Regions from separate parts of the Homo sapiens genome. Here region 1 is linked to region 2. Evidence: fine-mapped expression QTL. A gene starts in region 2. The other region holds a variant in brackets. All regions are shown on one strand. Distances are between the middles of the regions. Region 1 has its middle 290 kb from the start of MATN1-AS1. Region 2 holds the start of PUM1 (pumilio RNA binding family member 1).

Evidence for each region. PIP is the estimated chance that this variant, and not a neighbour inherited with it, causes the effect.
Region 1: its variant is fine-mapped to the expression of PUM1 in prostate (GTEx, PIP above 0.99).

Annotation. Positions count from the first base shown.
Region 1 is chr1:30,425,453-30,430,692 of GRCh38, forward strand. No RefSeq gene overlaps it. Among named protein-coding and RNA genes, the nearest start is that of MATN1-AS1, 290 kb to the right of the region's middle. The variant GA/G (reference allele first, on the strand shown) is at 2,918.
Region 2 is chr1:31,063,129-31,068,368 of GRCh38, forward strand. PUM1 (pumilio RNA binding family member 1) reads right to left here and starts at 2,589. Exons shown (of 22, transcript NM_001020658.2): 1 at 2,488-2,589. RefSeq lists enhancers at 2,246-2,565, 2,433-3,347 and a silencer at 2,676-2,895.

The DNA of each region.
Region 1 (5,240 bases), 640 kb before region 2:
TGAACCCAGGAGGTGGAGGTTTCAGTGAGCCGAGATTGTGCCACTGCACTCCAGCCTGGGAGACAGAGCAAAACTGCATCTCAAAAAGAGAGAGAGAGAGAGAGAGGGATTCCTCTCAGCTTCTCTGTGTAGGTTGGCTTCCCCTATACCCTGGGTATGAGCAGGGCCCCTCTGGAAGGAAGGTCTTCAAGAGAGAAGACCTATGTTTTATGTCTTGCTTTGTGGGAGAGGAGTTCTAGGTTTTATGACCCACCTTGGGGAAGAAGAATTCTGGTTCCTATGACTCAGACTCACTCTGCAGGAGAAAGAAGGGCAGGAGACAGGCAGATAGGAGAAGGTCAGAAAGAATCTGCTTTCAAGACCTTCTGATCTCCTTTAATTCAAAGTACCTAGCATGCCAAAGCACCATACTTTGGAGTGTCATGTTCTGAGCCCCAGAGTGTACTGTGTGTGGGGTGGGTGTGTGCATGACTGTTTATGTTGTGTATGCATAAGCTGTATTTGAGATCTGAGGATGAGGCTTGGAGCAAAGAGATGAAGTGGTGGATGGTGATATGGGGAAGTTAGTCAGAGGTCTGCTCAGAGAAGACTGGGTGCTGTGCAATCCCTGGGGAAATCTTTTTCATGACTGTTTTAGTAAGTAATAAAGGGCATTTTTTCCTGAACTTATAGTAAAGTTAACATCCAAGAAGGTGTCCCCATCTGACACTTTAATTCCTTGTCTCCTTGGGGAATACACAGCAGCGAGCCATGGAGCAGGCACGGAGCATCTTCCCAGAGTGTCATCTTTCTCCAAGATCAGAGAAATGCCCATTACTTAATATTTAAAACACCATGGATAAATCATAGAGAGGAAAATGTGCATAGATTTGAAGTACTAAATTAGAAAGCTCCAAGAAGAAGTGTGCCAGTGGCTGGTTGCTTCAGCTCCTGCCTCTAGGCACCCTGGGGATATAGAAGCCCTACCTTGATATAAGGGGTGCATAGTGGATGCCTTTTGGAATCCTTGAATTTCAGGAAATGAGTGTCAGAGAAGGACACAGAGCAGGGCCACCACTTGCTCTTATTGGGGTTTTAGAAAACTGTCTCTGCAGAGCAGCTAGAGGTGGGGGAGCATAGAGGCCTGTGAGGAACGTTTGAAATAATACAGGTGAGGGGTGAGCGGAGGCTTGGAGCAGGACAGGGCAAAGGGAAAAGAGAAGAGGAAACTGGAAAGATATGTGGGAAAATTGCTCTTCGACTCTGGACTTGGGAGTGGAAAAATGTAGGACATGGGGAGGGAAGAATCCAGTCTGACTGGGGATTTAACCCTGGGTTCTCACTTGAGTGGTCTCAGAATCACAGGAAGAGAGGCAAGTGTCCATTCTGCAGGTAGGGGTAACAAAAGGGTGGAAGGCCCCAATTGTTGTAAGCCACCAATCCTTTATTCAACTAGGACAACTACATTGTTCAAATAGAAAGGGAAACACTATCCAATTCATTCTGTGGGGCCAGTATTTTTCTAATACAAAAACTAGAAAAAGAGCTAATATGTAAATAAAACTGTAGAATAATATTCTTTACAAATATAAATGCAAAAATCCTCACCAAAACACTAATAAGCTGAATGTGAATAAGATTACACACCATAAGCAAGTAGGATTTATCCAGAATGCAAATTCGGCTTAATATATGAAAAGCAGGGTGATGTCACCAAAATGGCAGAGTAGAAGCAATCTGGCTTCATTCTCCTCCACAGAAAACCAAATATATATATATATCCAGTGCAAAGATTGCAACCAGCAATGTCCCAAAACTCAAATATGAGACTGAGACAATCCCTGGGACCACAGAAAGATTAAAAATTCTGAGCAGATGGTAAAAGAAATGGACTTCTGTATCCACAACACCTCTCCCTCAATCTGCCAGGCATCGTGTATGGAAAATTCCTCCTGTACTCACAGTTTTTACACTGGAAAAAGTGAGATCAAGATAAACAGCCAGCTTTCCTGCCATCTTGGCTTCCCTTTCAGAAAAGCCATTCTTGCCACAACCCATGGGAAGCATCACAAGTGCCTGTAGGGAGAAAAACCACTGGGGGCAGCCAGAAACAAAGGCAGGAGGCAAAACCAGCAACCCCACCTGAAAAACTCTGCTCTTTATCTCAGCCAAAGGAAAAGTCAAATCATAGTGGCTGTTCAGCAGCACCACATTGTAGGAGACAGGCTTCATGGGTCTTCTGGGCATGAACCAGCTTTCCCATCTAGCTGGGGCATCCCCTTTTGGATCATCCTTCCCAAACAACTGGATATCCCCTCTGGGACACCCTTCCCCCAATTTAGGATAGGTTGCGCTCTGAATATTTGCAAGAGCTGAGGCAATTCTGAGTGTAAGGCACCATCTAGTGCCAAAAAGGAGGAAGAGATAAAAGATTAAGGGACGTTGGGAGGCAATTGCAGAGAACATCTAAGCAAACATACTCTATACCCCACAAAGACAAAAACAAACCAAACAGCAAAGACTGGAATAAATAACTAATCCTTCAATGCAGTCATAGGTGTAGTCCACAAGAAACAACACAGCAAACAGGTCATAGTTATGACCTCCCCAAGTGGACAAAGCAAGGAGCCAGTAACCAACCCTAACAAGATAGTAATGTGTGAGGTCTCAGATGGAGAATTCAAAATACAGTTCTAAGGAAACTCAGTGAACTTCAAGATAACACAGAAAAGTAGTTGAGGAATTTTATCAGAGAAATTTAACAAAGAGATTGAAATAATATATATATATAAAAACAGAAATCCTAGAACTGAGAAATACACTTGCTGACCTGAAAAATTCATTAAAGGCTCTCAACAGCAGAATTGATCAAGCAGAAGAAAGAATCAGTGAGCTCAAAGACAGGTTATTTGAAAATACAGTGTAAGAAGAGGAAAAA[GA/G]AAAATAAATTTAAATAGAACTAAGGAAGCCTACAAAATAGAGAAAATAACCTCAAAAGAGCAAATTTAAGAGTAATTAGCACGGAAGAGGGAGTTGAAGAAGAGCAACAGGTAGAAAACTTATTCAAAGAAATAATTTTAAAAACTTTCCAAACCTAGAGAAAGATATAAATATCCAGGTATATGGAGGTCAGAGATTACCAAATTGATTTAATCCAAATAAGACCACCCCCAAGGCATATAACAATCAAACTCTCAAAGGTCACGGACAAAGAGAGGATTCTAAAAGCAGCAAGGTAAAAGAATCAAATAACGTAAAGGAGAGGAGCTCCGTTGTGTCTGGCAACAGACTTTTCGGCAGAAACCATACAGGTCAGAAAGGAGTGGTATGATATATTTAAGGCACTGAAGGAAAAAAAACCTGTCAACTGAAAATGTTGTGCCCAGCAAAGCTTTCCCTTATACATGAAAGAGAAATAAAGTATTTTTCAGATAAACAAAAGTTGAGGGAATTCATTACCACTAGACTCATCTTACAAGAATTCTAAAGCGAGTTCTTCAAACTGAAAGAAAAAGACACTAATGAGCAAGAAGAAAATATTTGAAGGTATAAAATTCACTGGGAAAAGTAAATACACAGACAAATTCAGAATAATCTAATACTGTAGTTGTGGTGTATAATTTCCTCACATCTCTAGTATAAAGACTAAAAGACAAATTTATCAAAAGTAATTACAACTATGGCAACTTAAGAGGCAATATGAAAAGATGTAAATTGAAACAAGAAAAAGCCAAAATGTGGGGAGATACAGTTAACATGTAGAGTTTTTTAGTTTTTCCTTTGTTTCTTTTCTTCTCTTTGTGATCAAAGCTAAGTTATCTTCTGTTTAAAGTAACTTGTTTTATTTATAAGATTTTTTTGTAAGCCCCATGGTAACCACAAAAGCATAAACCTATAATAGATACACTAAAAATAAAAAGCAATGAATTAAAACATACAACCAGGAACAAAAATCACCTAACCACAAAGGAAGACAGGAGTTATTATACAAAACAACCAAAAAACAAGTAACAAAAGGGCAATAGCAAGTCCTTACCTATCAATAATAACAATCAATGCAAATAGACTAAAATCTTCAATTAAAAGACATAGAACAGCTGAACGAATAAAAAAAATAAGACCCAACCATATGTTGCCTACAAAAAACTCACTTCACCTGTAAAGACACATGTAGACTGAAAGTAAAGGGATGGAAAAGATATTCTTTGCAACAGAAACCAAGAAAGACTAGATATAGCTACACTTACATCAGATGAAACAGACTTCAAGTCAATGGCTATAAAAAGACACAAAGTCACTATGAAATTATAAATACATCAATTTACAAAGAGGATATAACAATTGTAAATATAAATGTACCCAATCCCAAAGCACTTCAATATATAAAGTAAACATTAATAAATCTAAAGGGAGAGATAGACTTCAATATAATAATAGTAGAGGACTTCAACACCCCATTCTCAATAATGGACAGATCATCCAAACAGAAAATCAACAAAGAAACATCAGTTAAACTACACTCTAGACCAAATGGACCTAACTGACATTTACACAACATTTCATCTGACTGCTGTAGAATAGACAATCTTCTCATCAACATATGGCACATTTTCCAGGACAGACCATACATCAGACCACAAAACAAGTCTGAACATTCACAAAAGTAGAAATCATATCAAGTATCTTTTCTGACTATAGTGAAATAAACTAGAAATCAAGAACTAAAGAAATTTGGAAACTACACAAATACATGAAAATTAAACAACATGGTCCTGAATGATAAATGGGCCAATGAAGAAATAAAGAAGAAAATTTAAAAATTTTTGAAACAAATGAAAATGGAAACACAACATCTCAAAATCTATGGGATATAGCAAGAGCAGTACTAAGAGGGAAGTTTATAGCAATAAAAAAAGAAATAAAAAGTAGGATGATTTCAAATAAACACCCTAATGATGAACTTCAACAAACTAGAAAAGTGAGAACAAACCAAACCCAAAATTAATAGAAGGAAAGAAATAATAAAGATCCAAACAGAAATAAATTAAATTGAGACTAAACAAATACCAAAAGTTGGTTTTTTGAAAAGATAAACAAAATGTTTTTGAAAAGAAAAACATTTAGCTAGACTAAAAAAAGAGAAGACACAAATAAAACCAGAAATGAAAAGGGAAATTAACTGATACTATAGAAATACAAAGGATCACTGGAGACTAACATGAACAACTACAAGTTAAAAAATTGGAAAATCTGGAAGAAAT
Region 2 (5,240 bases):
ACTAGACAGTCCCATTCTGTTCTAAAAGGAAATCTCGACCTAACAATCTTTGTTCTAGAGCAGGCCAAGAGTTCCAAAACCCAAGTTCTTTCACTAAACAAAACTACCTGTTTCCTCATCTAGAAAATGAAAGAAATCCTTCCTCTATGACTCTCAATGTTTTGGGTTTTTCTTAATGAAAATGAGATAAATATAAAAGTTTTTGGTAAATTTAAAGTCATCGTGCTTAAGACTCTTAGAATTTAGTTACCCCTAGTTAAGGCAACTCCAGTCCCTAACAGAATTCCTAAAACAGCAAATGCAATCTTTTCTGAAATAAAAGCCTTCTCAAAATAGTTATCTAGGAGGCTGAGAGAAGGATAATGAGAGATTACCTAAGGAGGACAATGTACGTTATTCCAGTGATGGACACACAAAAAGCCCTGGCTTCACCACTACGCAATACACGCATGTACAAATTACACTTGTACCTCACAAATTATACAAATAAAAATTTTTAAAAGAAAAAAGTTATCTAACAAAGAATATCCACATAAAAGAGGAGTTTATCACTGACGCACACTAAACACACCTTCATTCTAAAAGGAATGGGGGAAAGAAAAGACTCCTATAAAAATGTTCAAACGAAACAATTGGCTTTTGTAAAGCTATCTGTATGCCCTAAGACTTCCTGCTTTACCTAAAGAGGCAAGGCAGTTTCTCAAACCAGAGAAAACCTGGCAGAACAGTTTCAAAGTGAGCAAATACCTAAGCAATTAACATGTTATCTTGGGTAGTTTTGTGGTATTTTGGCAAATACGGCACAAAAATTAAAAACTCAGTATCCTAAATATCAGAAAAGCTCACTAATACGTGTAGCATTTAAAATGTGATTTTTTTACAAATGACACCTTATAAGTACTTTAAGCAACTAGAAGTGCTCAGTCCAGCTACTCTTTCACAGCTTTCAAATGTTTACAAAGTTTTTTAAAATATCACTAATTGAGTTGAATTCAAAGGAACACGGTTTACTTTATTTCCATGGCTCACCTTTTACTAAAATGCTTAGTGGTTTAAAAGGTGTTTATTTTTACCACACTTAACAAACATTCTGTGGTCATAAATTTATCTTAAAACAGTTCATTTTAAACCTAAACTAAACAAATTCCAACTTCAAAAAGCTGTGGCCTTGAACAAAATGAATTCAATTGTCGCTAAAGCAAAACACTAACTCAAAGTTCAGAATCCGGAGAGCGTTTCCCAAGAGCCCAGATAAAGAATCAACAGCCCCCCAGTGTTTTATAAAGTTAAAATTAGCAAAGGGTCAAAATGTTTATTTTGCTTACGAAAACTGCATCGGAAGCCACATTTCTTGGGGTTGGGCCTGTCTTAGTAAGTTTTTAGGTGCTTTCAAGAAACAAAATGCTAAGCCTATTGTTTCAGAAGTTAACTGACTTTAAAACAGAACCCAGGAAAAGCTTCATAAAATCTTATTCTTAATTAATCCCAGTAATAACAGGAATTGAGCAAAATGGTATCGAGGGCTGAGAACAGTGTTTTCTTAATTGAACAATAAAAGGTAACAATCTAAGTTACGGGAGAATAAAGCCTTCTCTGGTAATGCTGTGTGTGGGTTTCTGGCTTTGTTTTTTCAGCGGGGGGGGGGGGGGGGGCTATAGGAGGGAAAAGTTACAGGAGTGTATTCCTCACTTGACGTGGGAATGGTACTGACAAGTAAAACAAATGATCTATGTTTACCAAGCATGTTTGTGAGGACTAAAACTAGTATTGTGTATCTAGATTTTCCTACTAGCAAGGGGTGAACCCCTCTTTGAGTGAAGAGAGACACCAACACCGGGAGGCTCAAAAAGGAAGAACCCACCAAAAACACAAGCTCACACGGAAACAAAAGGCCACAGCAACCCAGGAGCCTAAAAAGCATTCTGAAACTTCCTGATCGCCACTTCTCCACATTTAAGGCTCGCAAAGTTCCCCCACGGTGAATCTCGCCTGTGGACAAGGGCCACGGCTGCTTCTAAAGCGATTTATTGTTCCTCCTCCTCCGGCGCTGCCACGGAAGCTCAAGAAGTCGAAGAAATCGGGGTGGCACAGAATTACACTTCATGGCCACACAGAAGACTCGGGGCTTCGCAAACCCATCAAAAAAAGCAACCCGAATGGCAACATCAATCTTCGGTGGTTCCCAACAGGGCCAGGCAAAAATGTAGAGGCACGTCTACGCCCTGGGCTCGGGCCTAAACCCCCAGCATTTTCCTAGCTTCGACCCCGCTCCCCACCCCCTCCCTCCTTTGATAACAATAGGGGCCTTGCTGCTGACTCCAAAACATGTACGAGGAACAGCGAGTGAGAAGCCTCAGCCAGGGCCCCGGCGGCTTTTCCAAAGCCCTTCTCACCCCCACAACCACTCTCAAACACCAATATGAAGGGACAATCTGCTCGTTAGGGGTCCGGAGCAGCGTTTGGGGCCGGTGGGGTGCGGATACTCACGGGCGGAGCGGTAGGATGAAGATGGATTTCAGCCCCCCGATCTTCTCTCTCTGGCGCTCTCGCTCCCCCTTACCTTTCACTCCGACAACATGGCGGCCCACTGGGGACTGGGTTGGCGCGGTGCATCCTGGGATAGGCTCCGGCCCCGGCCCCGGCGGTGGCAGCGGCATGTGCGGAGAAGGCTGGCGGCTCTGGAACAGGTTGCCTGGTTGCCATGCCAACCCAGGGCCTGTGTGAACTCGGGAAACTCGCAGGCAACACAAACGCTGCGCGCGAGTGCCCGCCCGCTAGGCGAGCGCGCGCCGCCAGGGCCGAAGGCGGGGTCCCGCCGGCCCGCACCTGGGAGAACACGGCCTGGAGCTGGGCACGCGGGGTTGCGCCGGTGACGCTCCACCGAGTCTCGGACGCGCTCCTCGCGCCCGCCGCGCCCTCGGAAGCTTGCCCCCGAGCACCACAGCTAGCAGGGTTCGCGGACGGCCACCCGCACTGCCCTGGCCCCAGAGGTGCAGGGTTCAAACCCCTTCTCTGCAGCTTTCTAGCTCTGCGGCCTTATTTAAATCGACCTGCCTCCATTTCCACATTTGTACAATGAAGAAGAAAATAACCCCCACTTAACAGAATGGCCTGGAGGATTAAGTGGAATAATGTATGTTAAGTGCTTTTAGTCTTACTGTCTCAAACTAAACTCAAAATAGATTGAAGGCCGGGCGCGGTGGCTCACGCCTGTAATCCCTGGACTTTGGGAGGCTGAGGCGGGCGGATCATGAGGTCAGGAGATCGAGACCATCCTGGCTAACATGGTGAAACCCTGTCTCTACTAAAAATACAAAAAAATTAGCCGGGCGTGGTGGCGGGCACCTGTAGTCCCAGCTACTCGGGAGGCTGAGGCAGGAGAATGGCCTGAACCTGGGAGGCGGAGCTTGCAGTGAGCAGAGATCGCGCCACTGCACTTGAGCCTGGGCGACACGGAGAGGCTCCGTCTCAAAAAAAAAAAAAAAATAGATTGAAAACAGACAAATCGCAATACTGTAAAAGACCAGAAGAAGATATGGGGAGAAGCTCTATAATTGGAGGAGGGAAAATGTTTATACTCATGAATCAAAGTCAAAAGATCATAAAAGAAAATATTGAAAGAAATATAAACATCTGTACGAGAAGAGATGCCATCAACAAAGTAGAACAAATGGATAAAAAATATTTGCAGTACACGGCCAGGCGCGATGGCTCATGCCTGTAATCCCAGCACTTTGGGAGGCCGAGGCGGGTGGATCATGAGGTCAAGAGATCAAGACCATCCTGGCCAACATGGTGAAACCCCGTCTCTACTAAAAATACAAAAAAATTAGCCGGGAGTGGTGGCGGGCGCCTGTGGTCCCAGCTACTGGGGAGGCTGAGGCAGGAGAATCACTTGAACCCAGGAGGCAGAGGTTGCAGTGAGCCAATATTGTGCCACTGCACTCCAGCCTGATGACAGAGCAAGACTCCGTCTCAAGAAAAAAAATATATATATATACACATATATGTATATATACATATATACATATATATACACATATATACATATATACACATATATACATATATACATATATACACATATATACATATATAAACATATATATACGTATATATACATATATATATATTTGCAATACACATGATAAGGAAATGGTTGATCATCATGATAAATGCAAAATTTCTCCCATCAGGGTCCTGGTGGGGTGGCTCACACCTGTAATCCCAGCACTTTGGGAGGCAGAGGTGGTAGAATTGGTTGAGGCCAGCAGTTTGAGACCAGGCTGGGCAACATAGTGAGGCCTCGTCTCTACAAAAAGTTAAAAATTATCTGGGCATGGTGGCACACATCTGTAGTCCTAGCTACTTGGGAGCTAAAGCAGGAGAATTCCCTTGAGCCCAGGAATTGAGCTGCAATGAGCTATGATTGGGCCACTACATTCCAGCCTAGGAGACAGAAAGAGGCCCTGTATCAAATAAATAAATAAATAAAATCTGTAATCAATTTCTAAAAATCCGAAATGGGCTGGGCGCAGCGGCTCATGCCTGCAATCTGAACACTTTGGGAGGCCGAGGCAGGCAGATCACTTGAGGTCAGGAGTTCGAGACCAGCCTGGCCAACATGGTGAAACCCCATCTCTACTAAAACTACAAAAATTAGCCGAGCGTGGTTATGGGCGCCTGTAATCCCAGTTACTCTGGAGGCCGAGGCAAGAGAATCGCTTGAACCCAGGAGGTGGAGGTTGCAGTGAGCTGAGATGAAGCACTGCCTGGGAAACAGAATGAGATTCCATGTCAAAAGGAAAGAAATAAATCCAAAATAAAATAAATCCAAAATAAACAAACATAACAAAATCACATACAGCCAAGAAACATAAAAGTAGCCTGGGGTTGAGGGATGAAAGAGCAGAAATGGGAAGGTACTGCTAATGGGTATGGGGTCTCCTTTTGGAGTGTTGAAAACCTTTTAAAATTAGAGTGCGATGACGGTTGCAAAACTGTGAGTATACCATAAACCACCAAAGTAGACACTTTATGATTTAAATGGTGAATTTGTATTTTACTTTTGTTTTTCGAGACAGGGTCTCCCAGGTTAGAGTGCAGTGGTGTAACCATGGCTCACTTGTAGGCTTGAACTCCAGGGCCCAAGCGATCCTCTCACCTTGGCCTCCTAAGAAGTTGGAACTTCAGCCATGCACCAACACACTTAGCTAATTTTTTTGTTTTTGTTTTTGTTT